Linked DNA regions of Homo sapiens: region 2 is linked to region 1. A link means that fine-mapping ties the variant in region 1 to the expression of a gene that starts in the linked region. Tissue or cell type: whole blood. Region 1 holds a variant in brackets; the other region holds the start of a gene. All regions are shown on one strand. Distances are between the middles of the regions.

Evidence for each region. PIP is the estimated chance that this variant, and not a neighbour inherited with it, causes the effect.
Region 2: it holds the start of ITGB4, and the variant in region 1 is fine-mapped to the expression of ITGB4 in whole blood (TOPMed, PIP above 0.99).

Annotation. Positions count from the first base shown.
Region 1 is chr17:75,747,221-75,755,321 of GRCh38, reverse strand. It overlaps ITGB4 (integrin subunit beta 4), which reads right to left. Exons shown (of 40, transcript NM_000213.5): 27 at 6,277-6,481; 28 at 5,054-5,211; 29 at 4,462-4,642; 30 at 4,211-4,348; 31 at 2,966-3,148; 32 at 2,745-2,876; 33 at 1,348-1,557; 34 at 507-746. It also overlaps a transcript of GALK1 not described here. Among named protein-coding and RNA genes, the nearest start is that of GALK1, 14 kb to the left of the region's middle. RefSeq lists an enhancer at 782-1,555 and a silencer at 1,143-1,752. The variant A/G (reference allele first, on the strand shown) is at 4,756.
Region 2 is chr17:75,716,706-75,724,806 of GRCh38, reverse strand. ITGB4 (integrin subunit beta 4) reads right to left here and starts at 3,348. Exons shown (of 40, transcript NM_000213.5): 1 at 3,195-3,348; 2 at 25-113. The coding sequence starts at 103. RefSeq lists enhancers at 1,062-1,613, 2,528-3,066, 3,067-3,605 and silencers at 3,326-3,715, 3,726-3,785.

The DNA of each region.
Region 1 (8,101 bases):
TGGATGGAATGGAGGGGAAGCAGTGGGCACAGCTGGCGGCTGCTATGGTGGCTGGATGACAGATGGAGCAGGACAGCTGTGGAGACAGGATGGCCACCCCTGTACTACCTGGGCCCCAGGAGGGCGCTGCTGGCCTCCCAGCCAGGATTATAGAGTCTCGTGGGCCCCTGGAAGGGGGGAACCCTTTCATCTGAGCCCGACTCCGGGACCCCAGGGCCCAGGACAGCGGAAGCCTGCTCCTCCCGTGTTCCCAGATGGGAGGGAGGCCTAGGGCAGGACAAAACAAGAGTGAGAGGAGCAGGGAGTGTGCATGCATGTGTGTACGTGTGCGCATGCATGTCTGTGTACATGTGTGCATGCGTGTGCACGTGTGTGCGTGCATGTGTGCATGCGTGTGTGTATGTTGGAGAATGGGCGGTGGGGACAGCAGACAGAAGCCCGAGGCTCCAGGAGCTGGAAGAGAGGAAGGGTTAGTGGGAGAGGCAGGGTTGGCTGAGGTCACTCACCGTGGGAGGAGACGGAGGTGAGGGTGGAGTAGTCCCTGGGCAGTGTGGTCGAGTGTGAGTGTTCTGAGCGGGTCAGTGAGTTGTAGTCCCGTGTGAGGGTGGAGGATGTGCTTAGCACGCGGTGGGGCACGTGTGGGCTCAGGTGGGTGCCATAGGCAGCAGCACTGGTCGTGGTCATCCTGTGCAGGGAGTTGGTGCTGCCCGGGAAGGCAAAGTCCATCCGGCCATTCACCAGGTGCTCTGCAGGGGGAGAGCAGGGTCCCTTGGTCAGGCCTGCCCCAGACCCGGGCCCCGTGGGGCAGGCTGGGCCCTGCACATTCCTGGTCACCCACCCTCTGGGTGGCTTTTGCTTAAATACAACCAGTTTCCCTCAAACCACTAGGGACAGAGGCCCTCTGTCCCTGCAGGAGCCCAAGGGCCACCCAGGCTTCCACAGCCCATATCCTCTGGCCGGCCACTCTATCGGTGTGAGCACTGCTGACCCTGGCAGTGGCGGGGGTTTGCTGCGTCTGCAGTCAGCTCTGCCCTGGGGAGATCCCCAAGCCTTCCCTCCTGTCCTTTGAGGCCCCTGAGGGGTCTACTTGGGTGCCAGGGTCCGCTTCCCGGGCAGACTTCTGAATTTGCACCCCCTGGCCAGGCAGGCACCATAAGGGCCCAAGCGCCTGCCTCACGCGTCCCCTGGCACTGGGCCCTGCCTCTGAGCAGCTGTGCTCCCAGCCGCCAAGGCCCGGGCCTGGCTGAAACTGGGGCCCCCGAGGCAGCGCAGACGCCCACCCCAGGCCCTCAGGCGCGAGTGAGGCTGGGTGGGCGCGGATCGGGGGGCGGCGGGTGAGCCTGTCACCTCCGGGGGGCCCGGGTGTCGCACTGCGGGGCAGGCTGCCGCCCTTCCCGCCCGCGCCGCCGTCGTCCGGGGGCCCGTGGGGCGCCTCGGCGTCGGAGGAGCGCCCGCTGCTGGCCGACAGGCGCGGGATGAGCTCCGGGGGCAGCCGCCACGTGACGCGCCGCAGGTCCAGCTCCTCCCCCAGCAGGGGCTCGAACTTCCAGCCGCAGCCTTGGGAACAACGAAGGGCCGCGTTGGCACCGCCGGGGGGCGCCGGGCCGAGCAGGGCCAGGCGGGGGAAGGCCGTAGGCTCTGCGAGGGGAGCCCGTCTCCAGCTCCCGGGATCCCGGGGTGTGTGTTGGGGGCGGGGGTAGATGCGCACGGCCGGAGCGGGAAGGCCGCGGCAGGTGAAACCCTTGCGCGGCTGAAGCCTTTCCAGATGAGCGAGTGCAGCCTCGGCACAGCTGGGGAGGAGAGACCCCCGGACCCGCCAGAAACCTGGGGGAAGTCTGGGCTCTGTCACCAGCTGTGAGGTCTCCCTTGCTTTACTTAACCTCTCCGAGACTCAGTTTCCCGTTTGTACAATGGAGAGAGGAATCTTGCCCCTGCCCGCCTCCCAGGGACCGTTCCGCAAGCCACCGAGCGCTTCGCAGGTAGTGTTAGAAGCAGCTGAGCTGGGGTTCCAGAGTCACACCAGCTGCGCTCCACCTGAACCCCTCAAAATGGCTCCTTAAGCCCAAGCTGAGCCCCGTGGGGGCCAGTATGTGTTCACCGGGGGCAGCTTGAGGCATCGGCAGGGACAGAAGAAAATACAAAAGATATACGTGCCCCAGAGGTTTTTCCACTCATGGTACTGTGTGATTGGTATCCCATTATACAGAGCAGAAAAGTGAGGCATGGAAAGGATGAGTGATTCATCTGATGTCCCACAGGTGGAGCCACAGCTGACACTGAGCACTCAGGAGGCCCAGCTAAGGGCTCCGCAGCACTTTGTGCTGGGAATCAAGGAGGAAGGACAGAGCTGTTGGGGGTGTTCTTGTCTCCTTGGCTCCCCTACCCCTGCCAGGTGGCCGCCTGGTGGCTGCCCAGGGCTCCTGGGCCAGGCCTGCCCCTGGGGGGTGGCCTGAGTGTCCTGTGTGCATGGCACAGCTGGTGAACCTTCAACTTGTGAAGCTGTGTTTCTTCGTGGTCCCGTGGGCATGAACTCATGTGCGCTTGCACAAGGCTGTGTGTGTCTGTCCCCCAGGCACTGGTTCCTGTGCCCCATGCACAGATGTGCACTCCATTGCATTTGTCCAAGGCTGCCTTAACCTCCATGTCCTCTAGTTGCTGGCCCCTTTGCCCTCTCTGGACCCAGTGGACTCACTCTGTACCCAAGACCCCCACTGTCCTCTTGTGGGTCCCAGGTCTCCACTCACCAGTGTCATCGGAGACGCTGGGCCTCTGGCTGCCCGATGGAGAGCGTAGAACGTCATCGCTGTACATAAGGAAGCTGTCGTAGTCCTCCCCGCTCTGGGCGTCCACGATAGGGATGTCAGGGATGATGGGGACTGCAGGGCAGGGGAGTGAGCCAGGGCCCTGGCTGCTGCCCCCTGCCCCCCTGCCCGGTCTGCCCCTCACCTCCCTGCCCACCACTCACTGGACATGGGCCTCTTGGGCTGGGTGGCCAGGTTGATGATGGCCTCCCGCTCAGGCCCCCAGCCGGCCCCGTTGCGCGCCTTCACCGTGTAGCGGTAGGGCTGGGACTCCCGAAGGTTCTCAATAAGCAGCATCCGGTTCTTAGGGTTGTCAACCAGCACTTTCTTCATGGGCCCAATAGGTCCTGGGGCAGAGAGAGTGCTTCAGAGGGTCACCCAGGTCCCAGCCTGGTCCCAACACCACCCCTGACACAGCAGGACGGCCGTGCATCCCCTGGATGGCACCCAGGGGCTGGGGAAGCAAGGCAAAGCCAGCCACTGCTGAATTGCCGCCTGCGGAGCCCTGAGCGTCAGCATGACTGGCGTGGACATATGTCACCAGTCCTCCAAGGGACTCTGCTGAGTAAGTGGCAGAGCCAGGGCTGGACTCAAGTTGGCCTCGATGTCACCTCTACCCATATATCCACGGTGCCTCCACACAAGGCAAGGGCACGCATAGGGGTTGCCCACCCTGCCTCCCTTCCAGGACTGGAGAAATAACTGTTCTGCTAGGCACCTCTGATCTCGGGCTGCTAGATAAAATAATGTATAAAATAATCCTTTTTATTTATTTATTTTTAGACGGAGTCTGGCTCTGTCACCCTGTCTGGAGTGCGGTAACACGATCTCGGTTCACTGCAACCTGCGCCTTCTGGGTTCAAGTGATTCTCCTGCCTCAGCCTCCTGACTAGCTGGGACTACAGGCATGAGCCACCATGCCTGTCTAATTTTTAGTAGAAACGGTTTCACCATGTTAGCCAGGCTGGTCTTGAACTCCTGACCTCAAGCAGTCCACCTGCCTCGGCCTCTCAATGTACAAAATAATCTTTTAAAGTGCTATCTGAAATTCAGAACCTCCTGTATTTCTGTTTGCTAAATCCGGTAACTTTCCTCTCACCCTAAGAAAACCATGCACGTGTGAGCTCCCTGGTTACCTGCATGGGGAGGGGTACCCCTGGGCCTGTGACCTCACTCCACATAGGTAACCACCCACCCTGCAACCTTCTGGGTTTGGTCTTAGAATGCAACCCAGCCCAAATCTGGCCAAAACCCTAAAGATGCCTCAGGCTTATCCGCTGACCAGGATGAAGGCCTCGAGTGCCCTGCACAGCAGGTCCAGGGAGTGACCAAGAGCTCCCTCCAGCTTTGTCCCCTCCCCTTCCATGGCTGTTCTCCCTGTGGGCAGGAAAGAAGGATCTGGTTCTTACGGTTGTCATCGTTGACCAGGCCATAGCAGACCTCGTAGGCTGTGATCTCACCGTTGGTCTCAGCCGGCTCAGCCCAGCTCAGCTGGGTCACCGTGGAGGAGACGACATTGAAGGCCAGACGCCCTGGCTCGCTGGGCACTAGGGAGCGGGGAATACAGGAAGAGTGCTGTCAGTGGCAGAGGGAGGGAGGTCTGGGCATGCTGGCATCAGGGCAGCCAGGGGACAAATGGACAGACATGGCGAGGCCTCACCTTCCTGGTGGGTGCGGCAGGACACCAGGGAGCTGTAGGGTCCCTCGCCCTGAGCCCCGTAGGCGCACACCTTCATCTCATAGTCGCAATACGGGTACAGGTTGGTGAGCTCCACTGAGGGCACCTTGCTGTCGAGCAGGTGGGCTTCGGATTCGGAGTCACCCTGAATCCAGTACTTTACCTACCCCCAGGGACAGGGGTCCTGGTCAGCAGGGAGCAGCAGGCACCCAAGCTGCCTGTCCCTCCTCTGACCTCTGCCCTTACTGTCCTCTTTGCACAGATGAGGCCCGAGGG[A/G]GGGGCTGAGAGATCTGCCATGTGCACACGTCAGGACTAGGGCAGAGCAGGTGGGGGTATCTCCCATGCGGGGGTGGGAGGGGGCCCCATTCTAGGAAGGAGGGCAAATGTCTGATAAACTCAGGAATGGGTCTTCCCTCTTTCCCAGCACAGACCGGGTTTCCCTCTGACCACCTGTGCTAGGTTCCACTGTCTGCTCTCTCTCAGGGGGCCCTGGCCTTGGACGGCCCACCTCTTCTGTGAGTGCTGGTGCCAGACCGCCCATCCACCTGTCGTGACCCTCAGCCCCCCGCCTTACCCTGTACCCCATTGGCTTGCCAGAAGGGGGCAGCCAGTTGAAATGGATCTTCCTGGACCCAGCGGCCTTAGCATTGGGGTTCTGCGGGGCGCCCAGGTCGCCGTGAGGGGGTGGCTGTGATGACAACATCTGACTCGTGAAGCTCCGGTCCAGTTCATCTAACGGGTCAGGTTGGGGCCGGGCAACCACTCAGATCCCCCTTCACCACCAGGGGGCGCCAGAGACCCACTTCAACACCCAGGGCGCTCTACCCAGCGCATTCAACTCAGACCTGCCCACCCGCGTCTCTGGAGACCTGGTGGTGCCCCATTGCTGCCACATAGAGCATCCTGCCAAGCTTGGCGGAGGACCCAGGAGGGTCTCTGGAGGAACAGAAGCGGGAGGGAGTTGGTCTGCCCCTTTCTCCCTTGGCAGCTCAGGGAACATTCCACATGAGAACATTTGCTCCCCACCCCATCTCCACACTGTACCCTGAGTATCTCCCTCCTCTCCCATCTTCCTGGCAGGCTTTCTCCCAGTTGGGAGGCTGAGGGCTGATAGGAACTAACTGGCCCACTCCTTCCTTCCACAAGCATCTGCATGTTAGTTGGAATTGAGGCTGAAGCCAAAGGGCCAGGGTCTGATGGGAGAATTCCTATTGTGTGGTGACAACAGCCTCTCTAGCTGTAGGGTTGCCAGATAAAATGCAGGATGCCTAGTTACATTTGAATTTCAGATAAACAACAAGATTATTTTTTCTTGGGGGACAGGATCTCATTCCATGGCCCAGGTGCTGTGCAGTGGTGCGATCACAGCTTGCTGCGGCCCAGACCCCCTGGGCTCAAGTGATCCTCCCACCTCAGTCTCCGGAATAGCTGGGACTGCAGGTGCACACCACTATGCCAAGCTAATTTGTTTATTTTTTGTAGAGACGAGGTCTCACTATGTTGCCCAGGCTGGTCTAGAACTCCTGGGCTCAAGTGATCCTCCCACCTTGGCCTCCCAAAATGCTGGGATTACAGGTGTGAGCCAGTATACCCAGCCCATTTTGCAAAAAAAAGGATAAGTATGTTCCAAATATTGCATGGGACATACTTATCCTACCAACGTGTATGTTGTTTACCTGAAATTCAGATTTACCTGGGCGTCCTGTGTTTGGATTTGCTAAGTCTGACAGACCTAGTTGAGAGACCCCCCAGTCTTCCCTCTCCTCCTGCTTAAGCCGACCCCCAGGCTCTGCCTACCTGGGTCCCTGATGATGATGGTGGTGGAGTGGGGCTGGCCCAGGTGGGCCCCAAACTTAGGGTTGCTGAGCTGGACGTGGAAACGGCGGACCTGGCGGCCCCGCAGGAGGGAGTCAACTTCTTGCAGCTCCAGGAGCTTCACCTGCAGCTCTTTCCAGGCCTCCCCAGGCTGGAACAGCAGCTCACCCTCCACGGGGATGTAGTCCTGGGAGTGGAGGGGGTCAGGGTCAGGGTCATGGCTGGGGGCTGAGGCAAGAGTCATGGCCACACGCTCCCTCCCAACCTCATGGACACTGCAGAGACCATCCCTGCTTGCTGGGTGGAGTACTTACACGAGGTTCAGGTTTTTGTGTTTTTTTTGTTTGTTTTTTTTTTTGAGGCGTAATCTCACTCTGTCACCTAGGCTGGAGTGCAGTGGCATGATCTCGGCTTACTGCAACCTCCACCTTCCAGGTTCAAATGATTCTCACACCTCATCTTCCTGAGTAGCTGGGATTACAGGCACCTGCCACCACGCCTAGCTAATTTTTGTATTTTTAGTAGAGATGGGGTTTCACTATGTTGGCCAGGCTGGTCTCGAACTCCTGACTTCAAGTGATCCTCCCACCTTGGCCTCCCAAAGTGCTGGGATTACAGACATGAGCCACCATGCCCAGCCACGTTTCTGTTTGTTTGTTTGTTTTTGAGACAGGGTCTCACTCTGTCACCCAGGCTGGAGTGTAGGGGCACAATCACAGCTCACTGAAGCCTTGACCTCCTGGGCTCAGGCCATCCTTCCCCTCAGCCGCCTGAGTAGCTGGGACTACAGGCGTGCACCACACCTGGCTATTTTTTTTTTTTTTTTTTTTGTAGAGGCACGGTTACCCTATGTTGCCTAGGCTGGTCTTGAACTCCCGGCCTCAAGCGATCCGCCCACCTTGGCCTCCCAAAGTGCTGGGATTACAGGCGTGAGCCACCCATCTTCCTTTCAGTGCCGTGGAGCATGCCTGAGCTTTCCAGGATAAGAACTGGGAGGAAAAAGAAAATCCTTCACATAGAAGACCACTAGGTGGCACTTCAGGGCAAGATTTCAATTCCAGGCGCAGCAGCCAGGGCGATGGCTGGGGAGGCAACCTCATGCCACCCAACTCAGAAAGTGAGACCCATAGTTGTAAAACAAACAAACAAAAAACAAACCAGGGAGCTGCCTGCAAGCAACCTACATGGATACTTCAAAAACGTCAGTGTCATTAGCCCGGCATGGTGGCCGGTGCCTGTAATCCCAGCTACTCGGGAGGCTAAGGCAGGAGAATTGCTTGAACCCGGGAGGCAGAGGTTGCAGTGAGGCACTGTACTCCAGCCTGGGTGACAGAGCGAGACCTTGTCTTAACAAAAGTCAGTGTCACGGAAGACAAAGCCAGGAAACTTTTCTAGATTAAAGGAGTCAAGACACGTGACAAAAGTCAATGCCAAATCCTTGATTAGTTCCTGCATTGGGGGGAAAAACGCTATAAAGGACATTATTGGGACATCCGAACAAGGGGACATTGGAATATGGACCTATTTTATTTTATTTTATATATTTTTTGGGATGGAGTTTTGCTCTTTTGCCCAGACTGGAGTGAAGTGGCGCAATCTTGGCTCACTGCAACCTCCACCCACTGGGTTCAAATGATTCTCCTGCCTCAGCCTCCCTAGTAGCTGAGATTACAGGCGTGTGCCACCATGCCCGGCTAATTTTTGTATTTTTAGTAGAGATGGGGTTTCTCCATGTTGGTCAGGCTGGTGTCAAACTCCTGACTTCAGGTGATCCACCTGCCTCAGCCTCCCAAAGTGCTGGGATTAC
Region 2 (8,101 bases), 31 kb after region 1:
GGCTGCAGGGCAACGTGGACTCACCCAAGGTCCCAGAGAGGCTGACGCTGATCAAGGCTGCCAGGAGCAGCCTGGCCCATGGGCTGGGGCGTGGCCCTGCCATCCTCTTCCTCCTGCAGAACAGCAACAATTGACACATGAGGCCTCCACAGCCATGGTCGGTGCCGTCAGCTTCCTCTCGCTGCACAGCTGTGGGAACTGAGGCTCTGAGCACCAACAATGTGACCAAGGGCGCCCAGCCGCCAGAGGCAGGGCCCTGGGCCTCGGACTCCTGCCTTTTCCGCTGCCCTGTTCCGTGCCATCCCTGCAGTGGCCTATGCCCTGCCCCGGGAGGCCCCCTCCAGCCCTCAAGGACTCTGGTTTGCGAGTTTGTCCCAGTGCCAGGCCTCTCAGCACTGGGCTCCCTGAGGGCAGATGTGGGTTTATTCTTCTTTGCCTTTTAGCTCCCAGTGAGCCTGGGTCAGGCTTGGCCATGACAGGGTCATCCAATGAGGGTGCCTCCCTGAGAGGGGGCCGCAGCTCTGCCTCCTGCTCCTTCTGTCCTGGCCCACTTACCCTTTGGTGAGGGTGGCACAGCCGGGAGGAGAGGGGCCCCTCCCAATATCTGGGGCCTGGGGCTGGGCCACAGCTGCCCGCAGTGGCTTACTGCACCGGGTTGGGTTCTGCAGTGACTGCCCGGCCCATCAGGGTGGGGTCTGAATCATCTGCCCTCCCCTGTACCTCTGCCTGCCCCAGAGTTAAGTTTTCTGGGCCCCTGAGCTGTTCACCCTTTCACAAGTTAGCCCAGAGTGAGACATGCACACACACTGTGGCTCCCCTCAAGGCGTCCCCAGCGGCTGTGGGTTCAGTATTAAACCATCCTAAGTCCTCAGCGGCCTTCAGGGCAGGACTGGACATCCCTGAGGCCCTCTAAGAGATGCTCAGCCTGAAGCCTGGACAAGAAAAGAGGCTGGCGGCAGAGCCATCCAGGCCTGCAAGGCCGGGGCAAAGGTGAGCACCGCGCCTCTTTCTCTAGGGCCAGGTCTCCCAGGGGCCCAAGCCTCTGCCCTGCCCACGGGCCCTCCCCATTGAATCCTGTCTCAGCCCGGCTTCTGGGGCAGTGGCCACCCCAGGGTCTGGGGGCTGGGGTCCCCGAGGTGCTGGAGAAGCCCTTCTCAGGCCAAGGGCAGGAAGGCGTAGCCTGCTTCTAAGGCGTGCAGCCTGGAGGAGGCCACAGCAGCGCCAACACATGCAGGTCAGACCTGTTGTGGCACAGGGACTGGGAGGCAGCCCTGAGCCAGCAGGGAAAGGGTGGGGACAGCAGGGTTCCTAGAGGGAAATGACTTCCTTGCAGCCTCGGGGTGTAGCCGCCACACCCACATGCTACACAATACAGGCTGCAGGCTCAGGCCTCCCAGGCATCATTACACAGGCAGGTACAGGCCTGGAGAGCTGAGCCCAGCTCTTCCTCCCACTGTCCCTGGCCACAGCCCCTCAGGCAGTGCTGATTCCCACACTGTGACTGCCATATGAGCCCAGGGCTTCACGGAGGAGATTGCTCAGCACAGGAGCCCGGCGGGAGATGATTTCATTCTGCCCGTTTCCCAGATGAGAGACCAGGCACAGAAGGCTGTGGAACTTCCCCATCCCGCGGACAGCACTGGGAGGGCCAGGACAGGGCCCTGCTCTGCAGGCCCTGCCTTTAACCTCCATGGCAGCCTCCACGCAGAAGCTACAAAATGGCAGTTAGAGGGTTGGCGAGGCACCCAAGAGTGTTTGGCTTCATTTGTTTAGAAAGTTTTAAAAGTAGGAGCCAATGTTAGAAACAACGAGATTTCCCATAAAAGTTAGGAATTTGTGTTTATCATTAGATGTATCACGATGGGCTGGGCCCAGCGCTCAGGACACCTACTCTCCAGGCGGCCCGGACCCCACCAGGCTGCCCCGACTTTATGTACCAGCAGGTCCCTGGAGTGTGTGACTGCCACCCTGAATGCCATCACACTGCAGCACAGGCAGTTTCCCCCCCACAGGGACACACACACACACACACACACACACACACACACAGGCCATGCCCACCCACCCACAGGCTCAGAGCTCCCCTGGCCCCCATCCCAACCCCTGGGGACCCCTCTGGGCACACCTGCTCCTGTCCACTATCCTCTCCCGCTGTCACATCTCCTCCCCTCAGGGACCCAGGCCCTTCCTCGCCCCAGAGAGGCAGCTGGCCAGAAGTCTGGGGACCCCAGGCCCTTGGCTGTTCTGTCTCCCTGAGAAATCAGGGTCGAGTAGACAGACATACCTCCCCTCCTGTCCCTCCTGCTGTCCTTCCCTCAGCCCCCAGGATGGAGACTCCAAGCCTTCACTGCCAGCTCTGTTTCGGACAGCAACAACCATGCCACCTGTGCCTGGTCCTTGTCCTCAGGGTGTGGCAAGGCCATGGGGGCAGAGGAGAAGCCCTGTCCCTGCTCCTGGGAGTCACCAGGAGCCCCAGAGCCCCAGTCCCAGCCAGAGGGCCACCCCAGAGGCTGAGCCATGGGAAAGAGGGCGGATGCTGCAGGAGGTGGCAGTGTTGGGCACAGCCCTGGGGCTGGTGGGTGAGGCCTGTAGAGCTTCCTGAAGGAAGGCGCCTGGGGCTGACTTTGGGAGGAAGGCAGGCCTGTGCTTGGCCAAGAGAAAAGGAAAATCAGGGACTCCCCAGCCCCAGATGGACTGTGGCACCGCATAGAGCAAGCCCTGCCTGGAGCCGGGATGGCGTCTGCCTCTCAGGGTGGCTTTTAAAAGTAGGAGCCAATGTTAGAAAGAACGAAATTTCACATAAAAGTCAGGAATGTTGGTTTATCATTAGATGCGCCATGATGGGCTGGGCCCAGCACTCAGGCTGGTGTCTACTCCACCTTCTTTGCAAACCCTGGAGGGGCCCAGCCCCAGAGGGCTACCAGCCACTGGCCTCTGCCCACTTCTCCCGCAGGCGCACCCAAGGCGCTCCTCTGGCCTGGAGGTCTGATGGGCACCACCCTTCTCTAGCTGCCCTGCCCCTTGGCTGCCAGCTGCCCCCGGCGCACCCCGGGGAGGCTGGGCACCTGTCCTGCGCAGCGTGGACAGAGGGACCGGGGCCTGTCAGCCTTCAGGGAGGGGAAGGGGAGACAAAAGCCACCGGCCCTGCCCGACCAGCTCCCCTGCGCGGCTGCCCAGCTGGGGCGGGCACTCACCCTCTCCCGGCCAGCCTCGGCTGCTGCTGTGCGCCCGTCCTGGACCTACCTCGGGGCGGACTCGCTCCCTCCGCGCCTGGGCTGCCGCTAGGAGATGGGGCTGCAGCGCGCGGGCGAGCAGGGACTGTCCGAGGGCGGGCGCGGGGGTTGGGGGGGTGGGGACGAGGCGGGCAGCGCTTTATGGGGCGGGCGCGCAGGTAGGAAGGAGGCGCTGGTGAGTCAGACCGGCTGCATTCCTTCGCGCGGCGCGCACCTGTCGGGGCAGGAGCTGGGTGCCGCCGCCGGAGCCGGGTCCGCCCCCCGGAAAGGGCTGCGGCTCCCGCGGCGCCCGCCCAGCGCCCCGATCGGCTAGCGGCGGGGGCCGGGGGAGGAGCCACCGCTCTCCCTCTCCCTCCGGTCCGGCCCTGGGCGCGGGGCCTCCCCACCCCTCCAGGCTCCGGGCTCCAGGCTCGGGTGCGCGGACTGCCCCGGGCTGGAGGCGGCCTCTTAGCCCCCGTCCGCACGGGAACCCTCCCTGCCCCGACTCTGGGCCGCTAGCCAACGCCGGGCTGTGCTGCTGCTGCTGCCCCGACGGTCGTCAGCCGCGTACCCCCCTCCCCGCTCTCCGTGCCAGCGCGAGGCATGGGCCCAGGGAGTGCCCCCGGCCCGGTCGGGAGGCCTGACTCCCCGTCCCAGCTCTGCTCTGCAGTTCACGGGGTCCTCTCAGCCTCCAACCCCTAACCTCACGTTGTATCCAGAGGGAGAGCCGAGGAAGGGTCGGGTCCTCGGTGCACCCTTCAACAAGCTACTTAAATCTCCTTACAGTGTGAACAGTGATACCCTGGAGAGGTCAGTGCCGACCTGGCATGGATTGGCACTCGATGCCTTGTTACAGTTGTTCTTAACAAGCTGGTTACAGAGCTGGCCCCTCCCTCCCGTCAGTCCTCTGAGAGCAGTCTCTCCATTGCCACTGCTTACCACGGGTGTTCAGGTCAGAGAAGGGCTTCATTTTTCTTTTTCTTTTTGTTTTCTCTCTCTTTTTTTTTTTAGATGGAGTCTCACTCTGTCGCCGAGGCTGGAGTGCAGTGGTGCAATCTTGGCTCACTGCAACCTCTGCCTCCCGGGTTCAAGCGCTTCTCCTGCCTGTTTCCCGAGTAGCTGGGATTACAGGTGCCCGCCACCACGCCCGGCTAATTTTTGTATTTTTAGTACATCATGTTGGCCAGGCTGGTCTCGAACTCCTGACCTCAGGTGATCCACCCGTCTTGGCCTTCCAAAGTGCTGGGATTATAGGCGTGAACCACCATGCCCAGCCAGGGCTCCATTTTTCTCTAGGCTTACTGGCCAGCAATGCCAAACAACACCAGACTGCTGGCACAGCACTGTCCAAACCATGCGGTTTCAAGCCACCGTGCTTTTTCAACAGGCTGGTCCCTTCCCATGACATTGAGCCCAGTTTATCCTTCTTGTCCTTGAAGACGTTGCACCAACCACGTGCTAGAGAGCCTTCCTTGACCTCTCCACACCCCAAGTTGGTTTATGTGTCCCCATAACCCTTGGGCCATGGCTTTTACATGGCATTTGCCACATTGGTTTGAAATGATGTTTAGGAATCTCGCCACACTGTTGGACTGTGACTCCAAGGGCAGCTACTCTCTAGCACCTAGCACCATGCCTGGTGCATAGCAGGTGCTCAATAAAAGGGTGGTTGAGTGAATGGGATGGTCACACAGCCTCCCTGAGCCTCCATGCTGTCATCTGTAAACAGATTCCTCCACTGCTACCTCTCAGAGTGATTGCAGGGGTGCTGGTTGCAAATGTGTGAGTCGCCACCTTTCCTGGTCATCTGAGAGCTGTTCTGCACAGAGAAAGTGTTCAGAGAGGCTTGCTCCTGGATTTGGGAACAATGTGGAAGGAGTCCCAGTTTGGTTGAAGCACTCAGATCTGTGTGTGTCAGGCCAGCACAAGTGCCCTGTGGACCTGAGTCACTCCAGCAGGTACCTATCCACCCCAAAAAACAGAAACATGGAGCAGGAGCTCAGAGAACGGCCAAAAACAGCTTGCCTGAGGGGCCTGGGTCTGCCAGCAGCACCCATTAGAGAACTAGGGGGTCATATACACCCCACTGTGGGTGGGGGCTGAGGCTTCTTCCTAGAGAAGACCCAGGTCCAGAGCTGGCGATGCCCCAGGCCACTGGGCTCAGCAGCCCCTTCCTCTCTTCATTGCAAACCCTTCTGAAAATGACTAGGGGGCCTGGAGCCCTGTAGCAGCTGAGAGGCGAGATGTCAACCCAGGGAGGTCTCACTAAGTAAGATAAGCCATGAGCTTCCTTGGCTTCTCGGAGTCCTGGGGTTCATTACCTGGAGCCCGCATGTGGACTTGGCAGTGGGGAGTCCCTGAACCATCTCAGATCTTGTGCAAACTTTGAGGAGTATCTGATTTCAGAATGTGGGTTTGCTGGGAGGGGAGCCTTAGCTTACACTGGATTCCCAAATAGGTTACTGGCCCCAGAAGTTTAAATATTGCATGTGATTTTTTTTGTTGTTGTCATTGAGATGGAGTCTTACTCTATTGCCCAGGCTAGAGTGCAGTGGTGCGATCCTGGCTCACTGCAACCCCTGCCTCCTGGGTTCAAGCGATTCTCCTGCCTCAGCCTCCCGAGTAGCTGGGATCACAGGTGCACACCACCACGCCTAGCTAATTTTGTATTATTAGCAGAGTTGGGGTTTCACCATGTTGGCCACGCTGGTTTCAAATTCTTGATGTCAAGTGATCCACCCACCTCAGCCTCCCAAAGTGCTGGGATTACAGGCGTGAGCCACTGCTCCCAGCCTGCATGTGAATTTTATAAAACTAAAATAAACCCCACTATCTCTGCAGCCTTAGGGCCAGAGTGAGGTTGGCTCATAGGGGGCTTCCTAGGCTCTGCAAGAGAGGTGAGGCCCCTGGAACAGGACCGAGCCCAAGGACCTTGGATTGTTGCTCCTCCACTCCCCTGCACTCCTCATGTGGCCTCCAGTAGGTCAGACTTGTTCATTCATTAGTTCAATTATTTATTCATTTTATGAGCAGTTAATGAGCTCCTATGCCAAATGCTGGGGATACCAAGATGAACGAGAACTACGGCCTGCTTCCTTCACTCCCAGTTCAAACCAGGGGTCTCCAAAGTAGGCTGAGTATTCTCGAGGTAGGTGCTAGCTGAGACCCTATTCTTTTTTTTTTTTTTTCTTTTGAGATGGAGTCTCACTCTGTCGTCCAGGCTGGAGTGCAGTGGTGCAATCTCGGCTCACTGCAACTCTGCCTCCTGGGTTCAAGCGATTCTCCTGCCTCAGCCTCCTGAGTAGCTGGGATTACAGGCACGCACCACCATGCCCAGCTAATTTTTGTATTTTTAGTAGACATGGGGTTTCACCATGTTGACCAGGCTGGTCTTGAACTCCTGACTTCAGGTGATCCGTCTGCCTTGTCCTCCCAAAGTGTTGGGATTACAGGCGTGAGTCATTGCGCCCAGCCCTGAGCCCCTATTCTTATACTTGAGAATGTACATTACTTATTGGTAGATTGGCACCTGTTTTATAAAAGAACAAGTTAAAGAATAAATAGACAGGGGATGTGTGGTGGAAAGAGTCCAGTGACCTGTCTGGAGAGCCCGCATCAACCACATGTTCAGACTGGGGGCAGAGGCCTCTCCGGTGCAGAATCCTGGGGTTTGTTTTCTCCTCAGAGCCAAGGGGTTGCTCAATAGGCCCCCTCTTTTTTGAGACAGGGTCTTACTCTGCTGCCTAGGCTGGAGGGCAGTGCCACGATCGAGGCTCCCTGCAGCCTCAACCTCCTGGGCTCCAGTGATCCTCCCACCTCAGCTTCCTGAGTAGCTGAGACTACAGGTGTGTGCCACAAATCCTGGATAAGTTTTTAATTTTTATTTTGTAGAGACAGAGTTTCACCATGTTGCTCAGGTTGGTCTTGAACTCCTGGGCTCAAGCAATCCTCCCGTTTCAGCCTCCCAAAGTGCAAGGATTGCAGGCGTGAGCCACCATGCCCCAAAAAGTTGAAAGAATACAAAAATCACCCGTATTTTTACCAACTAGACTCAAGAATAATATTTTGCTGTATTTATTTATATATTTGTTAAACATTTGTATATTTTTAAATTTGAAGTTGCACTTATCCTGCCATTTCATCCTAAACACTCCAGCATGTATCTCTCAAGAACAGTCCCCCACGTAACCTCAATACCCCCCTTTATTTTTTTGAGACAGAATTTTGCTCTTGTTGCCCAGGCTGGAGTACAATGGTGCAATCTCGGCTCACTGCAGCCTCTGTCTTCTGGGTTCAAGCAATTCTACCTCAGCCTCCCGAGTAGCTGGGACTACAGGTGCATGCCACCACGCCCAGCTAAATTTTTGTATTTTTTGTAGAGACGGGGTTTCGCCGTGTTGGCCAGGCTGGTCTTGAACTCCTGACCTCAGGTGATCTGCCCGCCTTGGCCTCCCAAAATGCTGGGATTACAGGTGTGAGCCACTGAGCCCGGCCCCTTTTCACACCTAAGGAAATAATGTCTCCATTAAATGATGTGTGATTCAGTCCATATTCAAATTTTCTTAGTTGACTCCAAAATGTCTATTATAAAGGTTTCCTTTTGAATTTGAGTCCAATCCATGCCACCTATTGCATTTGATTGTTTTGTCTCTTTGTCATTCTAAAATAGAACCCTCACCATCCCATCCCCTGCCCTACATTACTTTTTTTTTTTTTTTGAGACAGAGTCTCGCTCTGTCGCCCAAGCTGTAGTGCAGTGGCACGATCTCAGCTCACTGCAAGCTCCGCCTCCCAGGTTCACCCCATTCTCCTGCCTCAGCCTCCGGAGTAGCTGGGACTACAGGCACCCGCCACCACCCCTGGCAAATTTTTTTTTTTTTTGTATTTTT